2 linked regions of the Homo sapiens genome follow. The protein of the gene in region 2 purifies or fractionates together with the protein of the main gene of each other region. This does not show direct contact. Each region holds a gene or a part of one and is shown on either strand. Other genes may lie near its edges.

Region 1 (16,866 bases), on a different chromosome or scaffold from region 2:
TCCAGCCTGTGTGACAAAGGAGACCCTGTCCCCCCAAAAAAGTGGTGGCGGGAGTTGAGACATACTAAGAACATAAAGCAGTTGTGAGGCAGATGTGGCACAACTGACAATGGTGGTGGAGTGTGAGTCAGTTTGGGGAACGCTGAGCCAGGGACTGAACACTGTGAGAATGGGGCTCACACATCTTTTCATTCATAGCAGCAGCCAACTTTCTTCCAAGGCCAGTCTCTATCCTAGGCCCAGGTGCATGGTGTGGCCGGAAATACCGGTGGCTGTGGACTCAGATATCCCATGTCCTAGTCAGCAGCTTCCCCTTTGCCAGCTGAGATGTCAGGACAAGTTAGCTTCTCTGCACCTCCATGTCAGCACCTGAAACCTGGAGTTCCTACTCCCAATACAAGGTTTGGGGGTTTTTGGAGGAGAGTGCGGAGGATTGGGGTTGGACGGTTTTGAGGACTCAAATACCTTGGATTCCAGTGCTTTACAATTAGTCCCAGAACTACACATCCGTTCTGAAAATACCCGTTGGTTAGCTGTGTATTCACGATGCCTAAGATTCAGGTGTTTTTAGGAACAATATTGTCCTTGTAGGGTGTAGCGGAGCCCCTTGTCCGGAGTCCTGTCCTTGGGGGAGAGGGTTCTAGTTGAGCTTCCCCAGGGGATGCTGATCCAGCTTTGCTGGCAGACGGAGTGGCAATGGCTAAGTCATGCCACTGTCTCTTCCTCCATCTCTCCAAGGCGGGATCTCTACTTTTGATTCCTAGACTGGCTACTTCATGTACACAGCTGTCACGTCCCACTGCAGTCTAGGATGGCAGCCAGTACAGCACTCACATCAAGTATATTGGAAAAGCCCTTTTACTTCTGCTTTATGGTTCCTAAAAGGTGCCTGCTCTGCTTATTAGAGTATCCATTTTGCTTCACTTATAGTAATAAGACATCATTAAAGGTACATAAATAAAATAAGGATTTTTTTTCTTTTTTTTTAAGACGGAGTTTCACTCGTCACCCAGGCTGGAGTGCAATGGCGTGATCTTGGCTCACTGCAACCTCCGCCTCCTGGGTTCAAGTGATTCTCCTGGCTTAGCCTCCTGAGTAGCTGGGATTACAGGCGCCCACCACCATGCCCGGCTAATTTTTGTATTTTTAGTAGAGACAGGGTTTCACCATGTAGGCCAGGCTGGTCTCCAACTCCTGACCTCAGGTGATCCACCTGCCTCAGCCTCCCAAAGTTCTGGGATTACAGGTGTCAGCCACCGCGCCCGGCCAAAATAAGGATTTTTAATTGCAAAAACCAGTTCAGGTTCGAATGGTCTTACACCTTAAGGTTAGGTGGTGTCCTGGATGGGGAAGGGGTTTGCATCACAGATCCATTAACGCTGTATGCTGAAAACACACACATGCAGCCAAACTCATTAAATAGCGTGGAAGATTTGTTCTGGAAATGACTAGGGACCTTCCTTCCCGCGTCCCCTCCTCTTGGTTGGACACTTTGAAATAATGACAAGAACTTTCGGGGGTGATTTTGACTATATGCAACTCTTATATGCTGACTTTAAAACACAACCCCCCCTATACTGTAGCTCCACTACATTCAAGTTACAGCGAGTAGTCCGTTACCGAAGTGGTACAAGTTGGTGGGAAGCAGGATGCAAAGAATTAGCAAATGGGGACCTTGCTTTGGTCAAGCTTTCAAGCCAACTTTGCAGCAGATGGGAGAAATGCCTTTTATTTTCAAACCTGTCAAGTTTGTATCAGCTAAGATGTTTTTCTTCTAGATTACCTCATGGTGACCCACTGATAATTGGTATGTTGGAATGCCATTTCCTAATGGTGGGAGCAGCCTCTTCATTTCTAGTCTTCTGGAAGCTTTTGAGATGTTCCTCCATGACATTTTGGTGAAACATGCCTCAACTGGCACCTAATTATTGCTCAGCAGGGGGGCTGGAAGGGTCACAACAGGCAGAAAAACAAAACAAAACGCTGCCTGATACTCTGCAAAATCCACGTGTTCAACATGTTCTACTTAATTTCATTAGGGAAAGAAAATTTCCATCAAGCTAAATGGTTCTCAAATGTTAGTGGCATAGAACCATGTAGAGATGGATGGGCGTGGTGGTTCACGCCTGTAATCCCGGCACTTTGAAAGGCTGAGGCGGGTCGATCACAAGGTCAGGAGATGGAGACCATTCCGGCTAACACGGTGAAACCCTGTCTCTACTAAAAATACAAAAAAAAAAAAAAAAAAAATTATCCAGGCATGGGGGCACGTGCCTGTAGTCCCGGCAGTACTTGGGAAGGTGAGGCAGGAGAATGGCTTGAACCCAGGAGGCGGAGGTTGCAGTGAGCTGAGATGGCGCCACTGCACTCCAGCCTGGGCAGCAGAGCAAGACTCCATCTCAAAAACAAACAAACAAAAAAACGAACCACCTAGTGATAATTCTTGAGTCTCATCTCGAGGACTCAGTACTAGTAGTCTGAGGTCTAAGTAGTAAAGGAACTACACTTCTGTATGGTAGTACTTATTTGGCAATAAGCAGGTTTGTTTCTAGCGTGAAGCATCTCAGATGGGAAACTCCCATCTTTAATACATCGCAGTTTTCAAATTTGGCACTCATTTTGTTCATGCCAGAAATGGATGTTACAAAGGAGTAGGCATTGGGATCAAACTGACATACAACTCTAGAGCGATATGAGGCATAGATACCCTTTCTGCTTGAATTGCAAGAGGGAATGAAGCTGTTTGATAAAGATTCTCCTCTCCCTATACAATGACAAGGAACCAAAGATAGGATGAGAAAATGCTCTATGTGATGAACAGGGAAAGAAGCCACAGTCCTAGCTTGTCTGAGTGAACTCATTCCCACGAGAAAACCTGCAGGGCCAAAAACACGCCTCCCCACCCCCTTCCCCCGACACCCACAAAAACAAAACACACCAAACCTCTGTAGGATACTTAGGTTTTCTCATGTTAGAAGTGTTCAGCCTACATTTACAGGCATTCTCTAATTAGGTGGCAGCACGTTGCCATAGCCAACGATCTCCAGATTATTTGAAAAGCAAACAGTAGCAACAATATTCTTTTAAAATGGCTTTTATTGAGACACTTGTAGGGATTCTGCAACATTTCCAGTTGGGAATCTTTATTTCCAACTCTTAGGGTGGCTAAACCCTTTTCTGAATGCCAAAAGGCACACTCTCACCACCTTAATGAGGAAACACACTTATCTGTGTCTGTTCCGATATCCAACTGGGACCTGGACCCCAAGCCCCGTGGTGTCTTGTACAAGTCTCATTAGTCCTCCACGTACAACTCAGAAGCCTGTTAATCAGGGAGGGTAATTTCCAAATAAATGTGAGCTGGCCTAAATCCAGCTGGTTATTTCTGATTTGGTAATCTGTAGTATCTTAATTTGGGGACATCCTGTCCTAAGTTTTGGCTGGTGCATGTAGAACTTATAATCTACCTGTATAACAACAGATGCAACATAGCTCCGTTCCAGCCCCAAATTCCTTAAAGGTTCTAGTCTACTCTTGCACTTCTTCCTGTACTGTTGTTGAGAAGCTTACATTTTAGGGAGAGGCTGGTCAAATCTCTACTCTCTGGTAACAGCATTAACAAGAGTCTTTCTTTTGGAAACAGACTCAGAAGTTATGGACATCAGCCACTTCAGACTTCTTTAGGCCACTATCCTTGAGGTGACTGACCAGCCTCCTCATGGATTGGAGTTTCCCATCATTGTTTTAATTGCTGGAAATGTTGGCCTAATTCTGCTTCCTTGTAACTTTCTGCTTTTTAGTACAAGTTCTCTTGGGAATCTACGCATGGTAAAAATACCAGCTCCTTCCATCTTTACAGCCCTGTCAGTGCTGTGCTCTTCAAAGCCTTTCCCTTAATAGCAAGAGGGCCAAGAGTGGCAAATAGAGGCAGAGCCGCCTGCACTACAGTTGTTCCCATCGTAAGGTGAAAACGAACGTTTAACTTCATCTAGAAGAAAAAACAAACAAAAAACCCATCAGGCTATTAAGATTCTGCTTGCAAATTAATGCCAATCCATGTTTACATTTTTTTTTTTATCATTGAGACATTTACATATATATGCAGGCTCTGCTCCTTAACAAAAGGTGAACTGAAAAACTCAAGGGTGTTTGTTTTTCAGTTAAAAAAAAAAAAAAAAAAAAAAAAAAAAAAGAAAAACAGATTTTGTACCAGGTGCCTCAAGAGAAAGCATTCTATTTGCAGATGACAGATCTTGGGTTTTCCACAAGTTTCCTCTGTGACTGTGGCTGCCATCTCTGATGAAAGAGTTATGGCATTAAATGGCAAAAGATATAATGGACACACAGGACTGTCATGTGTAATAAAGCAAATATTTACATTAAGCACAATACAGCAATTTATTTAGATGCTTAAAATGAATACAAAGGGAAAATAAAGATCACAAAATTATACATACTACAACAGTGTGTCATATATTAGATGGTATAAATGAATCCACCATGATGGTGTTGAACTAAAGATAAAACTAAATATCCAAAATGCAGCACTCATTGGTTTGCTGCTTCAACACAACACACTTTTATACAGATCTAAAAGGTGTCAAAATTAGTAGCTGCAAAGTCAATTCTTGCATGTGATTTTAGCTTAAAAGATTTCAGAAAACAGATCTGAAATACCAGTTTTTGTTTTTGACAGCTGTAATGTCAAGGATATTCAGAACAAGAAAAATCCTATAATACAAGAGAGTCCAGATATATATCTTACGTGGCTGGCCTCTGTTGCAAGATTGTACAAGGTTATGTGCAAAAACTAAGTCTGTCCAAAAAGTCCATACTAGCGCAGTTTTGAGCTTTTGCTAGGTAAACTAGATAGAGCGTTTATTACACAGCAAGGGCAACACTAAAAAAAGAAATCTATGATGGGCACACAGTAACAGGATCATGAGCATCACTTGAATAGGTCTAAAAGACTGTACAAATATACATTTCAACTATTCAGAATGAATACATGAAAAAAAATCGCTTTTCCCAAAGTCTACTATACACATTAGACTGGTAGCTTGTATGTTGGCCCTACACTACCATGTGAATTAGTTTAACACTTCTCAAAGACATCTGACCAATCATTTCACAGAGGGAAAGAAATGTTGAAAAGGCAGATAAAATAAACCTCTGCTTTTCCTCGTGTGTATTCATGAGTCACCAGCTTATTGGTTTTTCACATTTAGTTACCGTGTCTGTCAGAGAAGGTTCTGAAGCAAGAACAGCCTGTCCTGTCATAGACTTAGAAATAACCACTGGAACTGCAGCGGCCACATGCCCCACAGTCCAACCAGTACTCACAAGGCAGTACCAGTGAGAAGACAGCTTTGCAGTCACACTGGATATCAGAGTTCCAGGCTGCAGCATGTCACCAACGCCAGGGAACCTGGCACTTAGGCCTGTTGGCTGCTCAGTTTAACTCCGGCTAAGCTGCCATGCATGGGCTCAGCTACTCCATCAGTCATGTTGTCAAACTGTTCCCCATCCTCACTGTCAATTGTGCTATTCTGCCACTCAATCTGGGGGTTAGATAAGCGCTCATCATTCTCAGATGCATTCTTCCACTGTGACTGGTCCTTAGACCAAAACCCTTCAACTTTTCCATAGGAACTATTCTTCCATTTCAACTGCTCTCTGTCACCTTGCATGGTAGCCTTTTTTTTGGCAGCTGGCTTACTGCTCCTTGCATCTTCGCTTTGGGAAGACTCGTCAGACCAGGTTCCTGGTTTCATTTCGCAGGTATTGTCCTCAAAGTCTGACACTTGTTGGGATCCAGGCCCACTCTCAGATGGAGAAGCACCGTCTTTCCACTCAACAACATCGTCTTGGTCAACCTCACTATCAGATGCATTGTGCATTAGTTTGGTTGGTTCCTCAGTCAAATGAATAGTTTCGTATTTTGAACCATCCTCTTTTTGGTCTAGCTTCTCCTCAGATTCTGAAGCATCCTCAGGAATTACCTTCAGTACATGTTCCTCTGGGTTATCGTTAGAGATTTTAGGTTCAACTTCAAAAACAGGGTCAAAAGGGCTACCACTTTCATTGGATTCTTCTTCCAAATTTTCAAAACTGTCTGAGGAACTGTCATCTTCCTTCCCAAGGTTGAGCTTTTTGTCAGCAGTCTTACTAGCATTGACTCTGGAATCCTTCTCATCATGATTTTCAAATAGCCACTCAGCATCAAAATCCATCTCATGCTTGACTTTATTTAATTCTTTCATGTTAAACCCCAGCAACACGCCAGGCTTGTACTTTTCACAATCACGGACACACTTCTTCCTTTTGTTACTAAAATGGGAAGCGATGTCACTCTTCCATAACCATAAACTGGCTGCTAGCTTCTCAATTTCTCTCCTGGTGGGATAGGGCTGTTTGTTGAAATACTTTGTTAGAAAGCTTTTCCTGGCTTCATAGGAATCATCTTCATGACCCTTGGGGTCTAAAGCTAAAACAACAGGCTCTTCAGGCTTCTCTTCAAAGAAGCTGGGTGAATCACTATCATCATCTAACTTTCGTTTTTTCAGTAAGGGAAATTCCATTTGCTCGTAAGTGCGCTTCACAGGTGCCAGACTTGGAGACTGATTAAGCCGAGAGGGTGCATTTGTCTTATCCTGGCCATTTTGGGTCTTTCCAACGCCCCTGCAGTGAACTAGATGCAGAGTGATAGTTGAGGCGGTCATGTTGCTGGTATACACACCAAGGCAATGGATACATTTGTAGGTGAGCTTTTTCTCAACTGGATGAACCGTCTGAATAACTTGGTGCCTCTCTCGTAAGTGATGTGCAAGTGCATCAGATATGGGTCCTTTTAGGATTGAAAAGCAAAGAGGACAAAGGGTTTTCCCAACATCTTTTTTATAGGGCACTGCAGCTTGAGGTGAACTTTTTACAGGGATATCTGCCTTTTCCTGAACCTTTGGCTGTGGCTTTGGAGGAACTGGAGGATTATTTTGGGCATGGTAAGCAACAGATTCAGCTGGGGCATCCCTCAGATTGTATGTAGTTACCAGGAGATGGATGTTAGTGTGACTACCCTGCTGCAATGTCAAATCAAAACTCAAAGTAGAATCTGTTTTAGGTCCCATCTCTTCATCAATGTGAACCATCCGCATGTGTGCGGCCATCTTTTCCACATCATTGAAAGTTGAACGGCAATATGGACAAGACAGACCATGAATTAACATATGGTTGAGCAGAGTATCTGTGGGTAAATAGCGATTACAGTAGAGGCATTTGCTAGTAAAATTGTGTATTTTCATAATGTAGTTGGCTACTGCTGGGACTTTCTCAGCTTTATGTTCTTTTTCGAAGTGCACACTATAGACATTTTCAGGAAAAAGCTCATTACAGATTGTACATATTTTCCACTTTTGAGTTGAGGAAGTGTTACCTGGGGGAGGGCCTGTGGCAGCTGCAGCAGGTTTGGAACTGGACTGACCTAACACTCTGGATGCCTGTGACTGAGAGAGGGAAGGAGACTTTAACTGGCCCGATGAGAGAGAAGAGGCATTAGCAGACTGCAGGGAGTATCTTGCTGGTGCCTGGGACCTCTGCTCTGACCCAAGCCCATAAGACCTTCCGTTTCCACTTGGAAGTAACTGCTTTACAGACTGAGATTGTTGAGGAATGGAAACTGGTGCGTTGCCACCTAGACCCAGTCTCATTGACTGACCAACACTGTAACCCTGGCCTACAGATTTGACTCCATAGTTGTTCTGCTGCAGATGAACACTGGACATCATGTTGACTCCTGTAGAATTTAAGTTAGGCTTTGGTATTGAGAGTCGATTCACCATCTGCTGTGATGGTAAAGACCGGACATTTCCAGAAGCAAGGGAACCGATCCTTGGTGGGAGTCCCATGCTCTTCTTGTCTTGAGGTTTGGGAGCAATTAGCATCAAGGGTTTGGATCGGGGAACCACTACATTTGTGTGCCCAATCATGGCAGTGACCTGATAGCCTATACGTTCATGGTCTTCGATGACATGCTGTACCAAAGCTTCATAGGACTTTGGCATGAAAAGGCATCGCTTGCAGTGAATACTACTCTCTTCTCGGGCATTCGAGCCTAAGGGGACTGCCCCATTGAGTGATTTTTCTCCTGCCTTTGCTATGTAAGGTGCTGCCACATGCTGAAAATGTTCCCTGTAAATGTGCTTCCTAACTATTTCATAAAGAGGATCTCGGTAAGTGCACTTCTTACAGTAATAAACAGCTTGCTCTACACTGTCAGCCTGCTTAGGTTTAAGGCCATCATTTTTGTTTTTATCTTTGAAAGTGCTGAGGCTGCTACTTGGTGCGCTGGCGTTCGGAGCATGAAATATTTTAATGTGTGTTTCCAAAGTCTTTTTGTCTGCATTGAAGGTACAGTAGGGGCAATTAAGGAGAATCCTATTTTCAAAGTCTTCACTATGGACATTGCGGAAATGACTTTTGTAGGCAGAGAAGAATTTTGAGGAAAATGGACAAGCGCTGCAGCAGAAAGGTTTTGTCCGATAGTCCTAAAGTAAACACAAAAACTAGAATTAGAATGCCACTTCAGATAGGCAGTTAACAGATTCCAGATCCCCCCCGGATATTCTTAATAATGCATTGATTTTAGGCCGCGCGTGGTGGCTCACGCCTGTAATCCCAGCACTTTGGGAGGCTGAGGTGGGTGGATCACCCAAGGTCAGGAGTTCAAGAGCAGCCTGGCCAACATGGTGAAACCCCATCTCAACTAAAAATACAAAAAAATAAGCTGAGCGTGGTGGTGGGCGCCTGTAATCCCAGCTACTTCAGGAGGGTGAGGCAGGAGAATCGCCTGAAGCTGGGAGGTGGAGGTTGCAACGAGCCGAGATCGGCCATTGCACTCCAGCCTGGGCGACAAGAGCGAAACTGTCTCAAAAAAAAGCACTGATTTTAGTATGTTTTCCCCTTTTGTATAGTAACTTTATAAAATAGAAACTCAAAAAAAAAGCTATCTTAAACCAAATATTTTTGTCAGTGTAAATTAAAAAAATGCTAAGTTCTTTCTCAATGTTTAGGGAAAAAAAGTCACATTTTAGCTAAACCAAAGACAAATGACTTGAAGATAAACATTTTGCAGCTAGAAATAACAAGAATAACCTAAATGAAGGAAGTTACTAAAGACTTCAGGTTTACTATACAGTCATGTGTTGCTAAACCACAGGGATGCATTCTGAAAAATGTATCATGGTGTGAAATCCTCAAGTGTGTATTCACACAGACCTAGATGGTAGAACCTACTACACGCCTAGGCTACATGGCATAGCTTATTGCTCTTAGGCTACAAACCTGTACAGCATGTTTCTGTACTGATTACCATAGGCAATGATTAACACAATGGTAAATATTTGTATGTTTAAACATAGCTGAGCACAGAAAAGGTACAGTAAAAATACAATGTAAAAGATAAATGATACCATGAACAAAGCTTACAGGACTAGAAGTTACTCTGGGTGAGTCAATATGAAAGCCTGGGACATTACTGTACACTACTGTAGACTTTATGAACACTTAGGCTACACAAGTTTTACTAAAAAAAAAATTTTGAGACAAAGTCTCACTTTGTTGCTCAGGCTGGAGTGCAGTGGCACAATCGGCTCACTGCAGCCTCAACCTCTTGGGCTCATGCGATCCTCCCACCTCCGCCTCAGTCCTGGGGACTACAGGTGTGTGCCACCACACTAGGGTAAATTTTGTAGAGACAGGGTCTCCCTCTGTTGCCCAGGCTGGCCTTGAACTCCTGGGCTCGAGCAATCCTCCCGCTTTGGCTTCCCAAAGTGCTGGGATTGCAAGCCGCTGTGCCGAGCCCTAAAAAATATTTTTTCTTCAATAATAACCTCAGCTTGCTGTGGTTTATACACTTTTAAATTTTTAACTTTTTGACTCTTTTGTAGTAATACTTAGCTTAAAACACAAACAGATTGGCCAGGCACAGTGGCTCACACCTGTAATCTCAGCACTTTGGGAGGCCCAGGCGGGTGGATCACCTGAGGTCAAGAGCTTGAGACCAGCCTGACCAACATGGTGAAACCCTACCTTTACTGAAAATAAAAAAAATAGCTGCACATGGTGGCAGGCACCTGTAATCCCAGCTACTCGGGAGGCTGAGGCAGGAGAATCACTTGAATCCAGGAGGCAGAGGTTGCAGTGAGCCAAGATCACAGCACAGCACTCTAGCCTGGGCAACACAGCGAGACTCCGTCTCAGAAACAAACAAAAACCCCCAAAACAAACACATTGTACAGCCGTACAAAAATATTTTCTATCTTCATATGCCTATTCTATAAGCTTAAAAAAATTTGTTTTAAAAAAAAACTTTCCCAGCACTTTGGGAGGCCAAGGCAGGTGGATCACAAGGACAGGAGTTCGACACCAGCCTGGCCAACATGGTGAAACCTCATCTCTACTAAAAATACAAAAAATTAACCGGACGTGGTGGCAGGCGCCTCTAATTCCAGCTACTCAGGAGACTGAGGTTGCAGTGAGCTGAGATCGTGCCATTGCACTCCAGCCTGGGCGACAAGAGCAAGACCCCGTCTCAAAAAAAAACCAAAAACTTTAAAAACATTTTTTTTCTTAAAAGCTAAGACACAAACGCATACGTTAGTCTAGGCCTACAGAGAGTCAGAATCAACAGTATCACTATCTTCCACCTTTACATCTTGTCCCACTGGAGGGTCTTCAGGAACAGTAACACACATGGAACTGCCATCTCCCATGGTAACAATGCCTTCTTCTGGATAACTGCAGAAGGACCTGCCTTAGGCTTTTCTTGAGGAGGTCTCACACTTACCAAGAATAAGCCCACGGTGCTTTGTTTCCTTTTTTCATCATAGATTTGATTGTAAGCAGATAATGAACCATGAATATTCTTCTCTATTAATAAAAACCTTTTGGTATTGAGATCCATGTTTTCAAACTTTTTTGTTGTTGTTTGAGATGCAGTTTTTTTGCTCTTGTCACCCAAGCTGGAGTGCAATGGCACAATCTCGGCTCACTGCAACCTGCACTTCCCGGGTTCAAGCGATTCTCCTGCCTCAGCCTCGTGGCTGGGATTACAGGCGCCCCACCACCACGCCCGGCTAATTTTTTTGTATTTTTAGTAGAGACGGGGTTTCACCATGTCGGCCAGGCTGGTCTTGAACTCCTGACCTCAGATGATCCACCAGCCTCGGCCTCCCAAAATGCTGGGATTACAGGCGTGAGCCACCAAGCCCGGCCACGTGTTTTCAGACTTAAGGAGCTTGCTGAGGTCTGCACTGCTAAATCCTTCACTGAATTTTCTTGAGGGTTCTTCTTTTGCTTTTCCTGCAGTTTCCTTTTCTCTTTCCTCTTCACCTATGCGGGAACTTGTTCTAGTTCCCACAGCTCCTCACCAGTCAATTCCTCAGGAATCACCTCTAGGAGCTCCTGTTGTCCTCATCCACACCCCGGTTAAAGTTGTTTGCCATCTCAATCACAGACTTTGTGATTTATGCAAATCCTTTTAAGTCATGGACAAACCTCTTGAGTGTATTCTTCCAGATGCCATTCATACACTCCTTGATGACATCAACCCAAGCCCAAGCAAGATTCTTAATGCAGTCACAGATATTGCAATCCTTCCAGAATTGTATCAGAATCTTCTCAGTGTCTCCCTAAGCTGCGACGACAGGACAAAGGCCTTTCTCAGATAGTACGCCTTAAAAGCTGCTGTAACTCCATCAGTTGGATCAAAGAGGTGGTGTTTGATACTGGGATGAAAAACACCACTTAAAGGAGGCATTTGCTTATCAGCGACAATAAGCAAAAGCTTGAAGGGTATGTTATTCTCTCAATACTACTTCTCCACTTCGCAGGCATATCTATTCAGGAGGGCATCTTGAAAGAGGAGCAGGGTCACCCACGACTTCTTATATCTCCTGCAGTGCACTGGCCAAGTGTGTGTGTATTGATATGCTTGAAGCCCCTAGGGTTCTCAACATGCCAAATCACAAAGGGTTTCAATTTGTGGCCTGCAACATTGCCCCCAAGCAAGACTGTCATCCAGTCCTTAAAAGACTTGAAGCCTGGCATTGCTTTGGTCTACCTCATGGATCAAAGTCCTTTCAGGCATCTGTTTCCAGAATAGAAAGGTTTCATCCATATTGAAAATTTGTTCTGGCAAGTGATTTTCCTCCAGACTCAGCTTATCTAGAGTTTCCCAAAATTCTTCCGCTGCCTTTACATCAGCACTCACAAACTCACCACTTTCCCATTATGTAATGAATAACGATTCTTGAATTGTTTACACCACCCAGAACTAGCAGTCAATTCAACATCACAGCCAGGTCCAGCCTTTTCTTTCAACACCTCAAACACACTTTTTGCTTTGGGATCATCATGGTGCTGAGAGGTACACAGCACCGTGTGCACCTGTGTCTGCTCTTCAATCCAGGTCATCAGAAGCTTGTGTGTGTCTGATAAAGGCCCTTCTTGAATTTTTGTTAGTCTCATTGCCTTCAATGAAGCAGATGCTTTAACAGCTTCTGTCACTTTGTTCTTGTTCTTCAAGATCATAGCTATGGTAAAATGGGACAAGCCTGACTGGCAAGAAATAACCATCACTGATTCTCCACCTTCGTAGTCCTTAATCACTTCTGTTTCCAGGTCAATCACTCAACATGGCCCCTTACTGGCAACATTATGGATTTTGTATGCTTAGGGGCCATGATGAACAAAATACCATGAGATTAAACCATGCACAAGAATGATGCAATCAAGAGACACAGTGAACACAAGCTGTATGAGGCTGCTACCAGTTACCATGAAAAGCTGTTTTAAAAAGTAGGAGTACACTCTAAAATAAAAAGTATATATAGTAAATACATAAACTGGCAATACGGTTTTTAACTGTCATTATCAGGAAGTCATGTGCTGATGTTTTCTGTCTAGTACAGACTGCATATGGGACTATGTTCCCCCAAGATTATAACGGGGCTGAAAAATTTCTGTCACCTAGTATTTACTATACAGTTGACTCTTCAACAACATAGGTTTGAACTGCTTATATGTGGATTTTTTCCAAACAAATGTAGATCAAAGATACAGTATTCTTGGGATGCTCAAACCCTCTTATACAGAGGGCTAGCTTTTGGTATATGCAGGTTCTCCAGGGCCAACTGTGGGACTTAAGTATGCAAGGATTTTGGTAATGAGGTTTTTTTTTTTTTTTTGAGATGAAGTCTTGCTTTTGTCCCCCAGGCTGGAGTGCGATGGCACGATCTCAGCTCACTGCAACCTCCACCTCCCAGGTTCAAGCGATTCTCCTGCCTTCCCCGCTCCCACTTCCAACCTCCAGTAGCTGGGATTACAGGCATCTGCCACCACACCTGGCGAATTTTCGTATTTTTAGTAGAGAGGGGGTTTCACCATGTTGGCCAGGCTGGTCTCGAACTCCTGACCTCAGGCGATCCACCTGCCTCGGCCTCCCAAAGTGCTGGGATTATAGGCATGAGCCCAGCGCCCGGCCGGTAATGAGTTTTTAATCATTATTTGAGTGTACCACTTACTTCTATATTTTTTAAAAAAAAGTTAACTCTAAAACAGCCTCAGCCAGATCCTTCAGGAGGTATCTAGAAGACGACACTGCCATCACAGGAAATGATGGCTCCATGCGTGTTACTGCTCCTGAAAACCTTCCAGTGAGACAAGCTGTGAAGGTGGCAATGGTAATACCATTGATCTTGACCCTGTGTAGGCCTAGGCTAATTATGTCTGTGTCTTAGTTTTTAACAACAGTTTAAAAAGTTAAAAAAAAAAAAAAAGTTTAAGACTAGGAAAAAGCCTGTAAGCATATGAAGACAAAATATTTTTATACAGCTGTACAATTTTTTTTTTTTTTTTTTTTGGAGCGGTAGCAAGATTCATTATGAAGAGTGAAAGGACAAAGCTTCCGCAGTGTGGAAGGGGACCCGGGCAGGTTGCCGTGTTTGTGTTTTAAGCTAAGTGTTATTACAAAAGATTCAGAAGTTAAGAATTTTAAAGTTTTACTTTTTATGTAGCCTAAGTGTGTTTATAAAGTCTACAGTGATGTACAATAATGTCCCTTCATATTCAGTCACCACTCAGAGCAACTTCCAGTCCCGCAAGTGCCCAATATAGGTGTACCAATTTTTCTTTTATATTGCATTTTTACTGTACCTTTTCTATGCTTCACTATGTTTAGAAACACAAATACTTACCATTGTGTTAATCACTCTTATAGTATTCAGTATATAGTATTCTCTTATAGTAACATGCCATACAAGTTTGTAGCCTAGGAGCAACAGGCCATACCATATAGCGTAGGGGTAATAGGAGGCTATACCACCTAGGTCTGTGTAAGTACCCTTTATGATGTTTGTACAACAATGACATCACCTAACAGGGCATTTCTCAGAATGCATCCCATCATTAAGCAATGCACGACGGTATTATACGCTGTAAATAACTGTATGTGCTATACTTCTATGACTGGCAGCACAGGTGTGTTTACATTAGTATCACTACAAACATGAATCATATGTTGCGCTATGATGTCATAAGGTAGCAAGTTTTTCAGCTCAATTATATTCTTATGGGACCACTGTCGTAGATGTAGTTCATCACTGACCAAAATGTCGTTATGTGGTGAATGACTGCGGTAAAATTCAGGGCCCACGATGTTTTAGTGCAATTAGACAATTACAAGAGATAAAGCTATATCTTTTATTCCTTTCCTCATTATGGATAAATTTTCATAGAAAAAAGGCAAATCTCCATTTTTTCCTCTGATTAAAGTACAGTGTAGTATCAGATTCAGCGCTGATCAAAAGAAAGACTGATTTGAAAAGTTGGCTTTCTTCTATAAGCCTTGCTGTTCCTTCTCAACCAAGAACACTTCAAAAGAGCTAATGAAGTAATAGCTGCTTTGATTCAAATCAAGAAGTTAAATAAAAATGTCCTACAGACTGTGAGGAGGGTGAGGTATTTAAAAGCCAATAATACATTATAGAATATACTGATATCAAAGAGCAACTTTCAGAATTATGATTGTTAACACCTATGCAGTCAGTCCTTTGATGAAGGCAGGTGAACTGACATGCTTGGTAAGAGATTATCTTTTCTCCCTAGAAACCTACTTGTTTCAGATACTGGTTTGAACCATGATGAAATACTCTGCTTCTCCTCAAAGCTCAACTCTTCTTTAGTATTCAGCTATGAGGCTTTCAGATTGATAAAACTGAATTAAATAAATGATGTGTCCCACTGGAAAGCATTCTCATTCTAAGACTGCTGGTTAGTAACTTTGCCTGGGGTATTTAAAAAAAAAAAAAAAAAAAAAAAAAAGTCAAATATCTGAGTACTAATTTCCTGAAAAGTATGTTCCGATAGATGAACAGATCATTAATGCAGAATGAGAATCACTCCTAAAATAGGTAATGGTAAAAATTAAATTGACAATTACCTCTCTCTATGCAGAAGGAAATATCACCTATATGACATCATCATCATCTATTGATACTTGCTGGCAGTGCTAATATTGTTTTTAATGCCAATTTGTAAGAAGTTTTATCTCTCTGTCACTGACATCCTACAGAGTCACTTCCCCAGGCCTCCCATAGAAGTTGGGTGCCATCAACATAGGGAAATAAGAAAAGCTTAAATGTAAGGAAGGGTCTTGTCTTTTTCTGTGCAGAAAAAACAAGAATGGCAACACAGATGCAGAAAAATAGAGCCAGAGCACTTTTAGGGGAAATGGTGGGATACAGCAGGCTTCGTAACTTTTAAGTAACAAAATTTTGTTTCTTCTTACACCTCAAGTTTTAGTCCAATGACAAAAAAGGACAAAAAGTTTTTCTTAGTCTTCCCACTGGTCAGGAAAATATGAAATGCAATTTTGACACTTTCGATGTTTGGCACTTGCCCGCAATCACTGCACCGCTATAAAAGGCCTAGAGCTGAAAAGGGAGTATACCAAGCATGCTGCCATCTGAGGAAGTCTCCTGTGCCACTTACCTGGTTTTTCGTAAGTGATGGGTCCCACAGTCCTACATCCTCCCATGTAGTGTTTTTCAAATAAAAGTCATTAGGTTCAAATTGTTTAAAATCCTAGAAAACAGTGAAATAAGTTTACAAAAACATAGTGGTATAAACGCTAACCCAATCTTACATGTAAATCTCACCTCTTAACTAAGATGGGGAGAGGCACAGGAAAACCAACGTCAACAAGGACTTAAACTAGGAGTGATAAGGCTCTTAAATATAAAAAGGCATATGGAAGTTGCAGTCTACATTTTATATCAACCAACCACTTTCCTGATGGTCAGTCAGGTTTCCAAGGAAATTGCTGGAAGTTCTAATTAAGTAAAAAATTCAGCCACACACTAATATCAAAGCACTTTTCATTAGAGTACTGTACTCTAACTCGTCAGTTACAGTACTGGAATGGTGTCTAAAATAGCAATGTTTGCTTACAGCACTGCAAATATGATTTCTGGTTCTGTGCAAAAAAAAGATTTTTTTCGAGGGGAGGGGGCAGGAGATCAGATCAGGAAGAAAACTCAAATTTCAAACCCAAAAAGGCAGAAAGAAAGCTATTCAAAGAAAGTTAAGCAGTATGATGTTAAATTTATACTCTCATGTAAAAATTTAATGGTCCACTTCCCTCCAGACTAGGAAGATTAAAAGTCTTAGGGTAAAATCCCACTTGTTCCTAAAAAGTTCACAGTTCAAGGTGGAAAATGAAGTCTACACATAAATAATCATAGGAGGAACAAATCAAATGCATGACAGAAATGTACTGTGATGTTGGTATTAATTATTTCTATGAAGATG
Region 2 (16,866 bases):
TGGAGAAAATCTCTGAAACCTAACATGCCTCTCCCAGGGCTATGTTGGATGGCATTAGAGTTATGAAAGAACCACCTTATCATGTCAGTTCCTAAAATGAGAAGCTTAGGATGGGAGGAGAAAGTACTGATGAATAGTTCATTTCAGATGAACATAAAGATAGAATCTATAGGATAAAGGAGCTTAATGAATGCCATTCACAGTTAAGAGCTCAAAATGTCATACAGCCTAGTCAATAATATTCTATGCTAAGAGTGTGAACTTGAGACAAAGAATGATTTCTAGTGATGTCCTCAAAGAATCCACAGCCTTTTTCTATTGTCTTATACCATTTGGCTAATTCTGTATATGTGCTGTATCAGCTTTGATAATTCTTTCAAGACACAGTCTTTTCTCACACCCAATATAACACTAATTTTTCTAGTCATATTATTTTCTCCAAATTTATGCCACATGCTTAGTAATTCTGAGATTTAAGTAATCTGGCTACATATTACTCTTAATACTGACACATAAAGAGACTTTAGCTAGTACATCTGTATACATTTCAATGTGTTGCTCTGGTCTATGGCCATACCACCCTGAATGCACCCAATTTTGTTAATATGTTGCATTGCTAAAAGGACTTTTTATTGGAATAGAAGAGAAGCGTTCTTCTAAAGTGTATGGCAGGTGTGTGTGTGTGTGTACATACACATGTGTACATACACATATATTTTCCCTCTGACAATGCACCCATCATATGTAATATTTGCATACAAGGTAATACTGGCCCCAGGAAGAATCAGTATCTTACAGAGGGTAAGGCACAACTGAAACACAGAGCAAAGATCTAGATACAACCAGATTTACTTGTTTCTGGTTTCTTAAAATTTCAAGTACAAAGAAACTAGGAATGGTAACTTATAAATAAAAGAAACAAGAGAAGGGAGGATAAGAAAATAAAGGATAATCGAAAGGACTGTTGGAAACCAACATGACAAGTGATGGGTGTCTTCATTCACCAATGGCTCAATGAAATTGATGTAGATAATTCTGATGTTGTTAGTGGTCAAAGTGGGCCATAGAGAGGCAGAGAAGGAATGTTATAGGGAAAGAATTTATGATCCAAAAGGTGGTCCTCTATGACGTAAGACTTTGATTGCTTTTTTTGGCCCATCAATCATAAAATGATTATTATTTCTTTTCAGGATAGTCACAGGGTGAAATTATGAAGCTTTCATCAGAACCTATATAATTTTTTTTCTGAATAGGCTCAATGTAATCAATTTTAAGTTTAAAGGTTAATTTTGGAAAGCCCAAAATTTCTCAATTCCAACTCTGGTGAATAAGTGGCTACTCAAATGGTAAAACTAAAGTGTAAGAGTAATAGAGGGTTTTCTCATATGGTTTATTAAATGGGAATTCTAAGAGTGTTCCAAATATTTGGAAGAATATAGTAGTATGGAATAATAGTACTTGGGAATAACAAGTGACAACCCACATTGGATGCGTAAGTTCTGGCATGTTACTTTAAACCAGTCTCATTACTTTATATAGTATTCCTTGGTATAACAAAAGCCTCAAAGATGAAATATAGTGCCTGGTGATACTGAGTTTAAGAGTACATCTTTGTTGGTAGATTATAGACATGGATTACAGATGGAGTGCACCAGAGTTCAAAAGAATGAAAACCTGTGAGGTAAGGTATTAGATTACCACTGTGGATATTAAAGTCATATAAACTAATGGCAAGAAACAGATGGAGAATAACGAGTGAGGTGCTGAGGCCATCTAAAGAGATGGGTGCAAGGTAATGATAGGAGTGACAGACCATCTAGTCAGGGAGTTTGCACAGGCTGTTAAGAACCTGAGAAAGCAGTATTGTAATGGGCCAAAAAAGATGAGTATACATTCTTTGTAAGGTTTTTATCTTCCTAAAGCATCTTCGTCTCCTTCTCCTACCTGATGCCATAACTAGGATAGTGCCAACTATCTGTACCACAGTGTACAGTGGGGAGGTGGAAGGAGAGTCAGAAGTCACCAAAATGTATAACTATCCAAGCTCAAGAGCAGCTGGGCTGAGTCTCCACTCACCTCTTTCTCTGTATTACTCCCATAACCATTACTAATGTGTCCACTTTCTTTACTGACACAGGTGCTGGGACTGGGGGTGGTGAAGGATATGTACAGATGCTCAATGACTCAATGGAGTCAGTGAAGGTGATACATGAAGAAAAATGCTGGAGTGCTGTTAAAAATATAGCATTCTGAGTTTGTATGGGAATACAAATTTCCACTGACTAGAAGGAATATTAGAATAAAAAAATGCACACTTAAGCATAAATACTTTAAGTGTCTGTAAAATTTTCCTAGAAAGCTACATACAAATATAAGTTTCACACAGAAGCTACTTCTGACTCTACAGCAGCTTCTTAGATCAGATTAGGAATACAAGGGCACCTTCAAGGGAATAAATGGGAGAGGGGGATCACAGGAGATGGGAAGAAGCACAGGAACTAGGAGTAGCCAGCCTCTCTCAAACCTATAGCTACTCACCCAAAAGACAAAGTTAAGCTCTTCAAGCCATGACAAGCAACTTGCTCTAATGCTATTTTAAATTTCTAAAGGATACATTAGGTCATCAGGAGCTCCATCAGATACTTTCAAAGACAGTCAAGCTAATCAACCTTCACCAAGGCACTGGGCCCAAATTACTAAAGAGCTATCCTAACTTTGCCACCACTATAGATTCTGACACTAAAGTTGTGATGACCTTTCTGCCTTTTAGTACACTGAAAGACCTCTCACCAGTGTGTGGTTTCCCTAATGCTGAATAATGCTCAAACTCTAACTGATGTTGTTCCTAAACGCTTATGGATTCAGATTTTTCACCACTGTGGATTCTCTGATGTCGAATGAGACTTGACCTCTGAATAAAGGCTTTCCCACACTCATTACATTGGTAGGGCTTCTCCCCTGTGTGAATTCTCAGGTGTTGAATGAGACCAGTGTTCCCATTGAAAGCTTTCCCACATTCTTTACATTTATAGGGTCTTTCTCCAGTGTGGATTCTCTGATGTTCAATAAGGCCTGACTTCTGACTGAAGGCCCTCCCACACTCATTGCATTTGTAGGGTTTCTCCCCAGTGTGGCTCCTCTGATGACCAATAAGATGTGAGCTCCGCCTGAAGGTTTTCCCACACTCATCACACTCATAGGGCTTCTCCCCAGTGTGGATTCTCTGATGTCCAATGAGGTGTGAGCTATGACTGAAAGCTTTCCCACACTCATTACATTCATAGGGTCTCTCTCCACTGTGGATTCTCTGGTGCAGAATAAGGCCCGCACTCTGACTGAAAGCCTTCCCACACTGATTGCACTGATATGGCTTCTCCCCAGTGTGGATTCTCTGGTGCAGAATCAGGCCTGTGTTCTGACTGAAGGCTTTGCCACACTCCTTACAGTGATAGCGTTTTACTTTGTTGTGGATATCCTGATGTGAAAGAAGGGCTGACCTGTAACTGAAGGCTTTACCACACACATTACACTGATAGGGTTTCTCCCCAGTGTGGATTCTCCAGTGGCGAACAAGGCCTGAGCTCTGAGCAAAGCTTTTCCCACATTCATCACATTTATGTCGTCTCTCTTGTGTGGGATTTCCCCGCTGCCTCTCTAATCTGCCCAGAAGGTCTCGGGCTTCTTCATGCTCAAGACCCCTGATAACATCCCCGTTGCATTTGGCAGCTGTCTCTCCATGTGGCTGGATTCCAGTAGATATTACCTGTTTTGAAGCTAATTCCCTGTTCTCACTCCTGGTCTCACCACCTGAAATAAAAATGTAATAAACAAACATCAAGCCAATGTCACAACCTATTCTTTATGCTAGGAGAAAGGAACTGAAGATAGGGGAAAAGGAAAGTACACATGAACAGCTATAAGTAAACACAAAACTTCTGTCTCCAAAATAGCTTCTTAATAGTGACCTTGCTTAATATGAGCTAGTCAACTGGGAAAGAGGTACCATTAAAAAAAGAGAGTTAATTGGAAGGGGAACTAAAGTCAGGAAAGGATGAACTGAAGTGAGGTGAAAGTTGGGGAGAGGAATATGGAACTACTAAAAGAACTAATGAGCAGGACAGAAATGGGAAAATGCCCAGTCATCAAAAGGGAGGAGATACAATTAATTTATGTGAGAAAAATATATGTAGGAATCCCATGACAACTTGGAGAAGAAATATATGAACTCAGAGAGCACCTCTGAGATGTCAATTTCCAACTGGCAAAAACGCCAGTACCCTGGTACAAAATGTAAGGAAGTTCTGGACAGGAGAACAAAAGTTTCACGTAAGATTTCAAGAAATCTCAACATCATATCCCTCTGCTGGATCCTGAGTTAAACTTAACTATGTCTTTCAGAAAGGCTGTAGCTACTATACACATAAACAACAAACAAACAAAAAATCTAAAATGACAATAATAACCACACCTCTCCTTACCCAGGGAGAACATGTTTCTGAAATTTTCTGGCCTGTTATCTCTACACAGATCCTTCTGTGATGGATCAAGAAGCCACTCCTCTCGAATAAGGGACACAGCCATGTCTTCAATCTTCTCCAAAGTCTGAAACAAAACAAGATCCCCATTTGGGGACTGGGACTGTTCCACAGCTCAAACCTATAGAGCTTGAGAGATCCACCAGTATTGGGAGAGAATTACAACTTGGGAATGTACTATGTAAAGGGATCTGAATAGCTAGGAAGAAGAGGAAAATGCATGAGATTTACTGGGGGAAATTCAGGATCAATCTGTCCCTAGGCAAAAGAATTTTTGGGACAACTTTTTGGGTAGGTACTGCTACAAACTAGACAGTCAAGATATAGGGCAGATGCCACAAACACTGACAAGCACAGCTATGGCGTTTCAGTGAGAAGGAGCACAACTCACCTGGAACCCTGCTGTGAGAAGTGTAGCTGTCATTTCCTGGTCTCCAGAACTTCCTTTCTGGGAACGAGTAGGACTCTGGGAAGTAGACATGGCTGAGAGGAGAAAGGAGCTATGAATGAGACCAGTCCTGTCCTGTGGTTGTGGGAGCTGGCACTCACCCATTCCAAATTATTTTTATTTCAGCAGATATACATGTATGCCAAAGATTTTGCACATGAAGTGCTGATATCTTGGATTCTGGGGCCATATCTATGGCTGCCCCACAAAACATACGCACCCCGATGTCCCTGAAGTCAGACTGAAGTTACACTCAAAAATAGAAAGTATACTGGTTTCCTAACAGGAATCGCTTTTCAATTTCTTCTCTACCATCAAAACTACTTCTGTCTTTGTGGCTGTATACAGTATTTCCTTAGGTCCTAATCTCTTGGCAAACCAAGTATCAGAATCAACCAGTCTCTATTAATTAATTACCTTTCTGAAATGTCTACTATGGCTCCCAGTATTTGCTTTCTATAGATATTAAACGGCTTATTATTAAAATATAGATTACTGTATCTCAGGTAACAAGCTTTAGGACTTTAGACAAGAAGTATTAAGTGTTTTAATGCTTCTTTAGAAATATTAAAAATTCATATTTATAAACTACTCTAAATCACATTAATGAAAAAATATGAAATGCAGGGGAAGATGAGACTGGAACACCTCATTCTGCAATAAAGTAAAAAAATTCTCAAAAAAACAATGGGAAAATGTCAAGAGGATACAAGAGCCAGACTGAAGGGGCCTTCTATGGCCAAATCTGAGATGATTTAGCAAAATAAAGACAGTGGCCGAGCACAGTGGCTCATGGCTGTAATCCCAGCACTTTGGGAGGCTGAAGTGGGCAGATCGCTTGAGGCTAGGAGTTCGAGACCAGCCTGGCCAACACAGTGAAACCTCGTCTCTACAAAAATACAAAAATTAGCCAGGCATGGTGGCGTGCACCTGTAATCCCAGCTACTGGGGAAGCTGAGGATTAAGAATCGCTGGAACCCGGGAGGCAGAAGCTGCAGTGAGCTGAGATCGTGCCACTGTACTCCAGCCTGGATGACAGAGTGAGACTCTGTCTCAAAGACAAAACAAAAACAAAATAAAGACAGTAACAGAATATTTATGGAATAAATACGAATTTGAGTCCATACTGATAAATAAAAAATAATAAAATTGGGAGAAGGGAGCACTCTCCTTTACAATAAAGAAATGTAGAAGGAATGACAGAGTTAGAAAATCACTATTTCATAACCATTCTAGTAATCACTAAGTCAGTCAAGAAGTACCAATGAACACTAAAACTAGTGTTTTAGCAACAAAGTTTAATGAGGACTAAGATATTTAAATACACTCAAGAGTATCTTCCACAAATTACTTATTAGTTACAAAGGGAAAAATAGTAACTATACAATGATTAACCCTGCAAGAATAACCTTAACCAAGTCATCAAAGATAACACCACCAATAATAGGACAAATTCCTGTTGTACCCCTAAGAAGGAGTACAACATCTCTTGTTAAGATTTAGGTCATGTATCCTTGGCAGGGTGAGGTGTTCCTGCCAAATATATATGACCTCAATGTAAACATGATCAAACATCACGCAAATCCAAACTGCAGCCATTCTACAAAATAACACACCTGTACTCTTCAAAAAAAAAGAAAGGTTGAGGAACTATTCCAAAGTAAAGGAGACTAAACAGCCATGACAACTAACCACAAAGTGTGACGCCAGACTAGACTCTGAACCAGAAAGAACATAATTGGGGCAACTGTCAAAATATGAACTATGGCCTAGGTTAGTATTGTAGCAATACTACATTTCTTAATTGTGATAAATTTAGGAATTTATTTATTTAAGTTACCTAAGAAATGCTCGTCTGAGGAAATACATACTGAAATATTTCCAAATAAAGTGGCATGACAATACCAGCATAACCTCAAAAATGTATGTTGTAAATGTACTGTGGTAACAGAAATATGGCACATGTATACATATGTAACTAACCTGCACAATGTGCACATGTACCCTAAAACTTAAAGTATAATAATAAAAGGAAAAAAAATTAAAAAAAAAAAAGTCAAATTATTTAATTTGTTCATGAGTTTACCACTAGAAAGAATAATCTATATTTGAAGCCTAAACATTTAAACACAGACTTTGGGACTGGTCTGTAAACAGGATTTTAGTTCCTGGTTCTTCAGGAACTAGATAGGTATCCCAAATGGACTTTTATTTGTACTTCCCCCCCTTATCATCAATGAAATCTGGCTACTCACCTCTCTCTTGTGACTCTTGGGGCACTGGAGATTTATGTTGGGTTGCCTCAGATTGGAGCTGAGTATTTGGAGGCTCTGGTGCAGATGCTGAATGTACTACCTCCTCCCAGAGTACCCTATGTCCATGTACGCGAGCTGAGACCTGGAAACAACAGACAGTTGGATAATAAGGAATCCCTTTGCGAAATGTAATGAACAATGAAAGAGGACCACGAACACATCTACAGGGATATATGCTTGGGGAAGGAAGCAGCAGAATCTTCCTCACTTCTTAGGGACAGTAAGGAACACGAATACGTAATGAGCACAGAAAGAAAGGCATCATTTTTGCTTAGTACTAAAGGAAAAGATTTCTGCTGATGCCTTCCCTGTTACACAGAACACCAATATTTTGTACTCCTAAGGCAGAGGAAGGAGGAAAACAACAAACTTAAAGCAGTGCTATGCAGTAGAAAAATCTTTTAATAAGGAACTAGAAAGCCTGATTTCTGGTCTCAAATTTACCTTTAATTATTTGGATACCCCTGAAAAATTAACTTAAGCTTCCTATGCATCAAGTTCCCATCTGGCAAACAAGAACAATACAGTCGTAGGGATGTTATGACGACAAAAACAAAATGGATTTATATCCTTTACAAAAGTAAAAAGAACTCTACAAGTCATACTACACTAAAACTATTGTCATCCTTATCCAACAGAAACTGATGCTAAGCATCTGCTCTCCCACTGTGATGCCTATGTCCCTCTACCAAGCTTCCAGGACTCCCACAGTCATAGCACGCATACCTCCTTCTACTTACTGGTCGTCCTAGTATATCAATCTGCCTTTCCAAATCCTCTAATAGGGTCACCACCTCCTCTCCGTTCTCTAGCTGATGTTCCTTAACCAGTGTCTGGAGCTCCTCAGGTAGGATGGTCAAGAACTGCTCCAGCACCAGCAGCTCCAGGATCTGTTCCTTGGTGTTCAAATCTGGCCTCAGCCACTGATGGCAAAGGGCCCGTAGTTGGATCAGAGCTTCTCGGGGTCCTAGTGTCTCCTGGTAGCGTAACTGCCTGAAGCGCAGGCGGAACACTTCTTGGCCAAGAGGGTTACTTTCATGCAGACTAGATTCCTGGTCCCAACCATGATCCTCCTCTACCTTGACGATTACAAGATCCTCTTCAGGAGTCTGGTCTGGTGGGGATGGGGCTGAAGGCTTTCTTGATTCTTCAGCCATTAGAGCCTGAAAAGCTCAGGAAGTTCGTTTCCACTACCTTCTTTATCTTCTTAAGAGAAGACTCTTCTGAGGGCCTCTTTCTAAGGGTACTTCTTCATGAAGAAAATATGATAGTGTTAAGGCAAGTCAAAAGTCATTGTAACTAACTATGGTATCTTAACAAGTTCCTTAGTATGACACGGACTTCATGGCTCGGCCAATTAAATGATCCTCCCCACTGTTCCAGAAATAACTTCTTACTTCCTTAACTTTCTGTCATGCCAGCCATGCCAAACCCATCCATAGAAAAACCCCTTCCTTCTGCTTTCATCACCCTGTTTGGGGATGTGGAACATGGCTAAGCAAAGTCAGGAAACCATGTAGACTGGGTCTAGTTGAAATTTTGTGTTTAATCTCAGCTGGCCTTCAGGGCTGCTCATTTAACCCCTTTTAGTCTTTGATACACCAGCTGTACTAATCTGGTTCTACACGCTTCAGCTCTCAACCTTTCCCTTACTCTTAACAGATGAGACTAATTTCTACATAATCTAATTCAAGGTATTGTCAAAAACTTTCCTAACACTTTGCTCTTCTCCACCTAACATTCCTTATCCTACCTGTGCCCCTCATCTTTCCTCCTATCTCAAGGTTAACTTCCTCTACTATGGACGTGACCTCCAACTCAGAAACTCTCTATGGAGCACTCCAAGGAACCTGGATGCCCTATTGACAACTACAACCCAAAAGTCTACTCCCACACTCAAAAGGCTACATACTATATGATTTTATTTATGTGAGATTCTGGAGTGGGAATGTTTAAATGTTTATCCATTTCCCAGTTGAACAATATCTGAGTTGTTTTTGTTTTTTAATCACTATGAATAAAGCCACTATGAACATCTGCATGAGTTTTGGTGTGAATATAGTTTTCATTTTATTTGGGCAAATATTCAGAGGTAAAATTGCTGTGTCATAAAATACATATATGTATAACTTTATAAGAAACTGCAAAACTGTTTTCCAATCTGACTAGCACTTGATATTGTTTTTGTTTTTAATTTTAGATATTCTAATAGGTGTATGTGTAGTGGCAACTCATTATGGTTTTAATATCTCATATGGCTTTAGTATGCATTTCTCTACTGACTAATAATGTTGAGCATCTTTTTATGTGCTTATTTAACATCTATATATCTTCTTTAGTGAAGTATTTGTTCAAAACTTCTGCCCATTTTTAAATTTAGTTATTTTAAAATTAAGTTTTGAGTTTCTTACATCCTCTGGACACAAGTCCTTTATGAGATATGTAATTTGCAAGTATTCCCTCTTTTTCATCCTTTTCATAGGGCCTTTTGAAGAAAAAAAGTTCATTTTTTTAATTGACTGTGCTTTTGATGTCATATCTAAGAAATCTTTGCTTAATCCAAGGTTACAAATATTTTCTCCTGTTTTTTACTAAAAGTTTTATAGTTTTAGGTTTTACATTTAGGCCTATGATCCATTTTGAGTTAATTTTTATATAGAATTTGAGGTATGGATGGAGGTTCATTTTAAGGATTCTCCTTTATCTACTTAACTGTCTTTGTATATTTGTCAAATATCAGTTCACTATATGTATGTATATGTAAGGGTCTATTTCTGGAATCTCTGTTCTGTTTATTGACCTATACATCTATTCTTTCACCAATACAGAATAGTCTTGATTGTGTAACTTTTAAAATCTTGAAATCAAGTAGGTGGGTCTTGCAACTTTGTTGTTCGTTTTCAAAATTATTTTCACTTTCCTAGTTCTGTTGTCTTTTGATACACATTTTAGAATCAGTGTATTAATTTCTACAAAAAATTATTGAATTGGATTTGTATTGAATCCATAGCTCATTTTAGGGACAACTGATATCTCAACAACAGTGAGTTTTCCATTCCGTGAACACAATGTGTCTCTCCGTTGAAGTCTTCTTTGACTTCTTTCATCAGTACCGACACTACTTTCTTAAAGGACAAGATAAAATACTGTTGCCTTTAAAAATCCTTTCCTGGTGACTCCAATTGGAAATTATTTTCCTCTCATTCTATACCTCTGTTACTTAAATGTGTATTGCTTTAATGTTACTTTTCCCATAACTGTATATTTATTAGTTCCAAAGGAATTCTGACTTCAAAACTTAATTGTATTTTCCCCATGGGCAAAGGTCCATATCTTTTATCTTATTGATAGAATCGAAGAACATTAGCCATATTTACAATTGCAAACACAGAACATGTTTATATTTCTTGTAAGAGTGAGATTTAGAAACAAGACCTGATGTCCGAAAAAAGTTCAATTTCATGATCCTATTTCTTTGTGAAATATATGTCTATGGTTTCCATCCTTGGTATAGACATCATCTCTTGCCTAGAACTGCAATGGTAACTTTGGTTATGCTTTTTTCCCATTCATGTTCCACAATATTGCCTACTGTGTGTTGAAATGTGTCCCTCAAAAAGATATGCGGACATTCTAACCTCTAGTACCTGTGGATGTGACCTTATTTGGAAATGGGGCTTTGCAGATGTAATCAAGTTAAGATGAAGTTATACTGGAATGGGTAGGCCATTAAACCAATATGACTGGCACACTTTTAAAAGGAAAAAAGACACAGAGACAGACTCTGAGAAAGGAGAAGGTCATGTGAAGACACACACACACAGATGAATGAGAGCTAAGTGACTACAGAAGCAGAGATGGAGTTGTGCAGCTGCAAGCCAAGGAATGCCAAAGTTTGTCAGTAAAAACAAGAAGCTAGAAGAGCATGGGTCTGGCGACACTCTGATTTTGGACATCTAGCCTTCCTAATTATGAGACAGTAAGTGTCTATTCTATTAAACTACCAGGTTTATGATACTTTTTTTTTTTACAGTAGCCCTGTACTGCCAGAGATTTTTTAAAAATATGTAATATGACTAACATGACTCACCTCCTGAAAATATTTCAATAGGGACCAAATTTTTTAGCATGGTATGCAAGGCCCTTTATGAATGTAAACCTGGCTGGCTATATCTACTTTAAACTCACTTACATAAAGCCTTTCTGGGCTGTGGCTTTCTCATACTTCCATTCTACTACAGAGTTCTTTACTCTAGCTCAGTGGTTCAAAACTGATGGCAATATTGTCCTTACCCCCATCCCAGGGACCTTTCATAATGTCTGTAAATATTTTTGTTGTCACAACTTGGGGGTAAGGGGTGCTACTATTATCTTGTACATAGAGGCCAGGGATCCTACAATGCTCAACACAGCCCCCACCACAAAGAATTATTTGGCCCAAAGTGTCAATGCCAAGGTTGATAAATCTTGGTCCAGCTAAAACCATTCAACTCTTTTTTTTTTTGTTTGAGATGGAGTCTTGCTCTGTCGCCCAGGCTGGAGTGCAGTGGCGCGAACTCGGCTCACTGCAACCTCCGCCTCCCGGGTTCACGCCATTCTCCTGCCTCGGCCTCCCGAGTAGCTGGGACTACAGGCGCCCTCCACCACACCCGGCTAATTTTTTGTATTTTTAGTAGAGATGGGGTTTCACTGTGTTAGCCAGGATGGTCTCGATCTCCTGACCTCGTGATCTGCCCGCCTCGGCCTCCCAAAGTGCTGGGATTACAGGCGTAAGCCACTGTGCCCGGCCTAAAATCATTCAACTCTTAACTCTAATTTATCTATTACCTTTTTCATGAGTTCTTCTCTGTCATCCCCCTGCCATTTGTCATTCCTACCAAAGCATTTTTAACATGGTCCAAATATAGGACTTATCACATTGTGAGAATGTGGCCATGGCCTTATTGCAAATGTTTGTTGACAGAGGTGACCATTATCTTTGTATTTCAAAGATACTGTAGAGAATGAAGAAGAGTGTAAGTAAAGGTAGCATACCCTAAACCAGTTGTCATGAGATGCTAACATCAAGATAAAACCAGAGACCTATAGTCCACAAAGAAGAGATAGGTACTTAGGAAAAAAATCAGATTACTGTACATACAGTTCCCCATACGGATCATCAAGGCAGTGCTTATCTTTTCAGTTTTTGGAGTTGTGGCACGGGGCGAGGGGGGTTGGTTTATAGACTCTTCAACCTAAAGAAAACACAGAACTTCTTTCCAGCAAAATGTCCACAGATACAAAATTGTATACTCAATTTCGGCAGAGTTCACAGACTCAAAGGCCATCCAAGAATGCCAGGAAGGTTAAAAACAAACAAACATACAAACAAATCCTACATAGAGAGTGTGTACAGAAAAGAAAGGGAATTTGAAAATTATTTTTCAAGTTAGACAAGGCCGGGAACAACAGGGTGGAGAGTAAACTACAGATCAGAAGAACCAAGGAGCAAAAGATATGGTTAAATATATCAATTAACATTGGGGGTATAGTTCATTGATTATGACTTTACAGGAAAGTGGAGGAATTTGCTAGAATAGTGAGATTTGGGGGAAGAGTGAATTTGAGGAAGATGCTGAGATTTTGTTGAGAAAGGGTAATCAATTTGGTTTTGACAATTTGTTTTTGTTTGAATAAATTATCTATAATTTTAAGATAATTTATTTTAAAATGGTCTTAGCTAATTTTAAAATAATTTAATTTTTCAAATCAAAACAAACTCTTAAATTTTCTTAAAATAGCTACTTATGGTTTAATGTTAAAAACTTAAAGGTCAATACATGGGACATAAATTCTGTTTAGAATGTGATGTTATATAGTGGTAGTCTTACCATGTTTTCTTATAAATTTCCTTAAAGCCAAGGTTCATTTTTAACTACTGAACAACTGGCCATCTATTACTGAGCAATCCTCATCCATAATGGCTATAAAATATTATTATTATTATTTAGGGACAGGGTCTCACTATGTTGCTCAGGCTTGAGTGCAGAGTCTATTCACAGGTGCAATCCCACTACTTACCAGTACAGGAGGCTATAAAATATTTTAATGTGAAGTGCGCAGCATTCAAGAACTTTATATTGTTGATGTGGTATTAAAAAGTCTCAATAACAACACTGATGAAAACCAGCTAATTATCAGGTTTGTTCATTTTTTATACCAAATCAGCCAACAGGTCTTGCCCATTGCTCATCTTGATTATTCTATTTAGTGGCTAATTTTCCATTTTTTTAAGTCTCTTCCCTCTCTGATCAGCTGGTTTTTGAGAATTACAACCTATAAATAACTGAGTGCAAAATTACTCCAGTATGTACCTTCCTCTCAGTTTTGTGCGTACATGTCTGTATTAAGTTGGTGAGCACTTTGTGGATACAGACTGATTTTTACATAGTCTCCTTAAAGAACACCTAGTCAAGTTTACATGAGTTTAAAAGGCAATCTTTAAAGCTTCCTCTGGATTTTAAATACTGTAATCCTGTGAGATGCTGAAGGCACAACTCAATTTTAACAGTATTATTTTTTCAATAGTTGTGGAAGGAATGTATTCTTCCTTCAGACTATGTCTAATTTGAGAAATGTTTGGGAACTGAAAACAAAACAAAAAAGACATTTTCCAGGATTTAAAATCCAAGAAAAAGTAGGTGAAGCCAATACTATGCTTTGTTATCTCAAATTGCATTAGCTGAAAGTTTTAATTAACATCTATCACATTTTACATTTAAACAACAGAAATTCAAAACATGTATGTATTTGCTAAAACAATGATTGCTACGTAAATATACTCAACGGAACTAACAAACAACAGAAATATGTTTTTAAAGGTGGTGGTGGCAGTCAAAGTAGCCTGACAAAAATTACTCATGACTAACCAGAGTTTTGGAAATGGGGCCCTCCCAGAGTTCCTCGTTGGCTAACTTCAGTTTGCTTTAACAAATGAAATAGGCATTCTGATAATGTTGAATTCTGAATTACCCTGAAATTAAAAAAAAAAAAAAACTTTCGTACAATTATCTAGTCAACACACCACCAGTTTCTGAATACACTAAAGAAAGAAGAGTAACAGCAAAAATTGGTTTCCATGGATAAACGGGGCTTCCAAAAGCAAAATATGTCTTTTTTAAAAACTGAGAATTTTGTTGTGACCTAAACGCAAAAGAGCGCTAAGTGAAAACAATTCAGACTCTGGAAATAGTTGGATAAAAAATAACATGGGGGGGGCGTTCCCCATTTTAAGATAAACAAGATCGACTACAAAAACATACCACAACACGATTATCTATGAAGAAAGCTTCATAAAAGGTTCCCTCGCAAAAAGTTCAAGGGCAATTCGTGGGGACGTACTCTGCCTGCAACAGCAACTAAGGCGTCAGAATCGGTCCGCGGCGCCGAACACCGCACAGGCCCCTCTCCGGACCCCTCAGGCCAGTCCTCAGCTGCGGCCTGGACCAGCCACAAAGCACCCACTTTCCTCCGGCCCAGAGCCCGACCGTACTCACTGTGAGTTGCAGAGGCGCCCCGTCGTGGGGAAGGGAGGCTGCAACGGATAAACAGACTCGAAGGAAGGTCGGGGAGTAAAGGCGATGAAAGCTGTACTCGGACCAGGCCCCTCCGGCCACTAACTTCTAAATCTGCGGAGGCACAACACCGGCCAGCACGCATCTTGCCCCAAAGGCACTTCCGGAAGCTCTCTAGGAGTCCTGGAGGTCTACAAGCTCTATGGTCGGCCGACTGAGGGTACCGGAGTACCACGCCCCTCACCTGCTGTGTGCTGTGCCTCGGGTTCCTCCCGCGTCTGCGTGCCTCAGGCTTGCGCTGTCGCTGGGGCAGTGAACGTGCTGGGGAATAACGGACCTTGGTGTCCCCTCCGCCTTGTGTGCCCATGCAGCTCCGCGCGCTCGCTGTCAATAGTAACGGTCCCCTGGGGGTAGATATCGGACGTGGGGAGGCTGGAGCTGTGAATAGGAGGCTGGGAAAGTGTTGGAGGAGGGAGCACTTCATGGATCCTTAGGATTCCAACTGGATTCGCGTTTGGCTCCGTTACATACCCTGTACTTTACTGTTCTCGATTCATAAACATATCCAGACCTCTCACATAGAGTACAAACTTCATGAGGAATTCCTGCTAATCACAGTTCATAGTTTTGTGAAATCCCTATGGCATGGCACTTAGGAATAGCATATTTTATTAAGTATTCAAAAAAATCGTAATTAAATATATATTCTTTTTGGATCTTTACATATTTCCCACTCTTTCCTATCTTAATGAATTTCTATCGCTTACAGCATCTGCTTTGCTGCTTAGCTGTTTTAATGCTAAACCTATGATGTAAGCTTGAAGAGTAGACCCTAGGTTTAATACCACAAGATATGGGGAACAAATCTATGTTCATTCTTTCTTTGTTAGTCTTTTTTTCTTTTTTTGCCTTTTTTTTTTTTTTTTGAGACAGGGTCTCTATTGCAGAGTGTAGTGGTGTGATCATAGCTCACGGCAGACTCAACCTTCTGGGCTCAAGCAGTCTTCCCACCTTAGCCCCCCAAGTAGCTGGGACTACAGGTGTGCACCACCCTCAGCTTAAAAAAGAAAATTTGTAGAAACGGGGTGGCGGGGCGGGGCGGGGGTCTCACTATGTTGCCCAGGCTGGTCTTGAACTCCTGGGCTCAAGTGATCCTCCTGCCTCAGTCTCCCAAAGTCCTCGGATTACAGGCATGAGACACCACCCTGGCCCTGTGTTCATTCTTTACAGACCTGTTGCATTAGAGCTTTTTAACTTTTGAGACTAATAGGATTTCAGGGGTGGAGGTTGTGGCAAGTGTTATTTTTTGTTGTTTAAGTCTCATGTATTTATTTCCTTCAGCACCTTTCCCAACCACCTATTATTGAGTTCTCAGGGCTCCTCCAATTTTCACCTTAATTTCCCTCTTTATCTGCTCCTGCTGGTAGCCACCACCAACATTTCTATCCCTTCCCAATTACTAACTCCCCAATATTTTGCGTACTGACAAAGTCGTTTTGATTTAAGGGTTTTGTCATCTAATTATCACATGAAAACAAGTAAATAATAGTAAACACTGGGAAGCTACAGTGCTTCTGGACTCCTTCAAAGTAATTATTTTTGCTTTTTATTTCACAGCTGTTGCTTTCCACCTGGGATGGTAACTGGAAGTAACTGGTGACAGACTAGAACTCTACTTTCAGTTTCTTTTTTCACATTTTAAAAGTAACTTTTTTGGCTGAGCGCGGTGGCTCATGCCTGTAATCCCAGCACTTTGTGAAGCCGCGGGAGGATCACCTGAGCTCAGGAGTTTGAGACCAGCCTGGCCAACATGGCAAAAACCCATCTCTGCAAAAAATACAAAAATTAGCCAGGCATGGTAGTGGGCTCCTGTAGTCCCAGCTACTCCAGAGGCTGAGGCGGGAGAATCGCATGAGCCTGGGAGGCAGAAGCTGCAGTGAGCTGAGATCCTGCCATTGCACTCCAGCCTGGGCAATAGAGCAAGACCCTGTCTCAACATAAATAAACAAATAAAT

Evidence for each region.
Region 1: the proteins of ZKSCAN8 (region 2) and ADNP purify together in Homo sapiens (affinity purification with mass spectrometry; 2 studies listed by BioGRID and IntAct, with this or other methods). This does not show direct contact.

The regions. Positions count from the first base shown.
Region 1 is NC_000020.11:50,885,970-50,902,835, forward strand, and holds the end of ADNP (activity-dependent neuroprotector homeobox protein), read right to left. Parts: intron 16,141-16,866; coding exon 16,048-16,140; intron 8,544-16,047; coding exon 5,436-8,543; 3' UTR 2,949-5,435; downstream 1-2,948.
Region 2 is NC_000006.12:28,139,997-28,156,862, reverse strand, and holds the start of ZKSCAN8 (zinc finger protein with KRAB and SCAN domains 8), read right to left. Parts: upstream 14,981-16,866; 5' UTR 14,834-14,980; intron 14,653-14,833; exon of another isoform or gene 14,600-14,652; intron 12,533-14,599; exon of another isoform or gene 12,439-12,532; intron 8,548-12,438; 5' UTR 8,456-8,547; coding exon 8,039-8,455; exon of another isoform or gene 8,025-8,038; intron 7,381-8,024; coding exon 7,239-7,380; intron 5,019-7,238; coding exon 4,927-5,018; intron 4,603-4,926; coding exon 4,479-4,602; intron 3,808-4,478; coding exon 2,846-3,807; 3' UTR 1-2,845. UniProt on the Homo sapiens protein: May be involved in transcriptional regulation.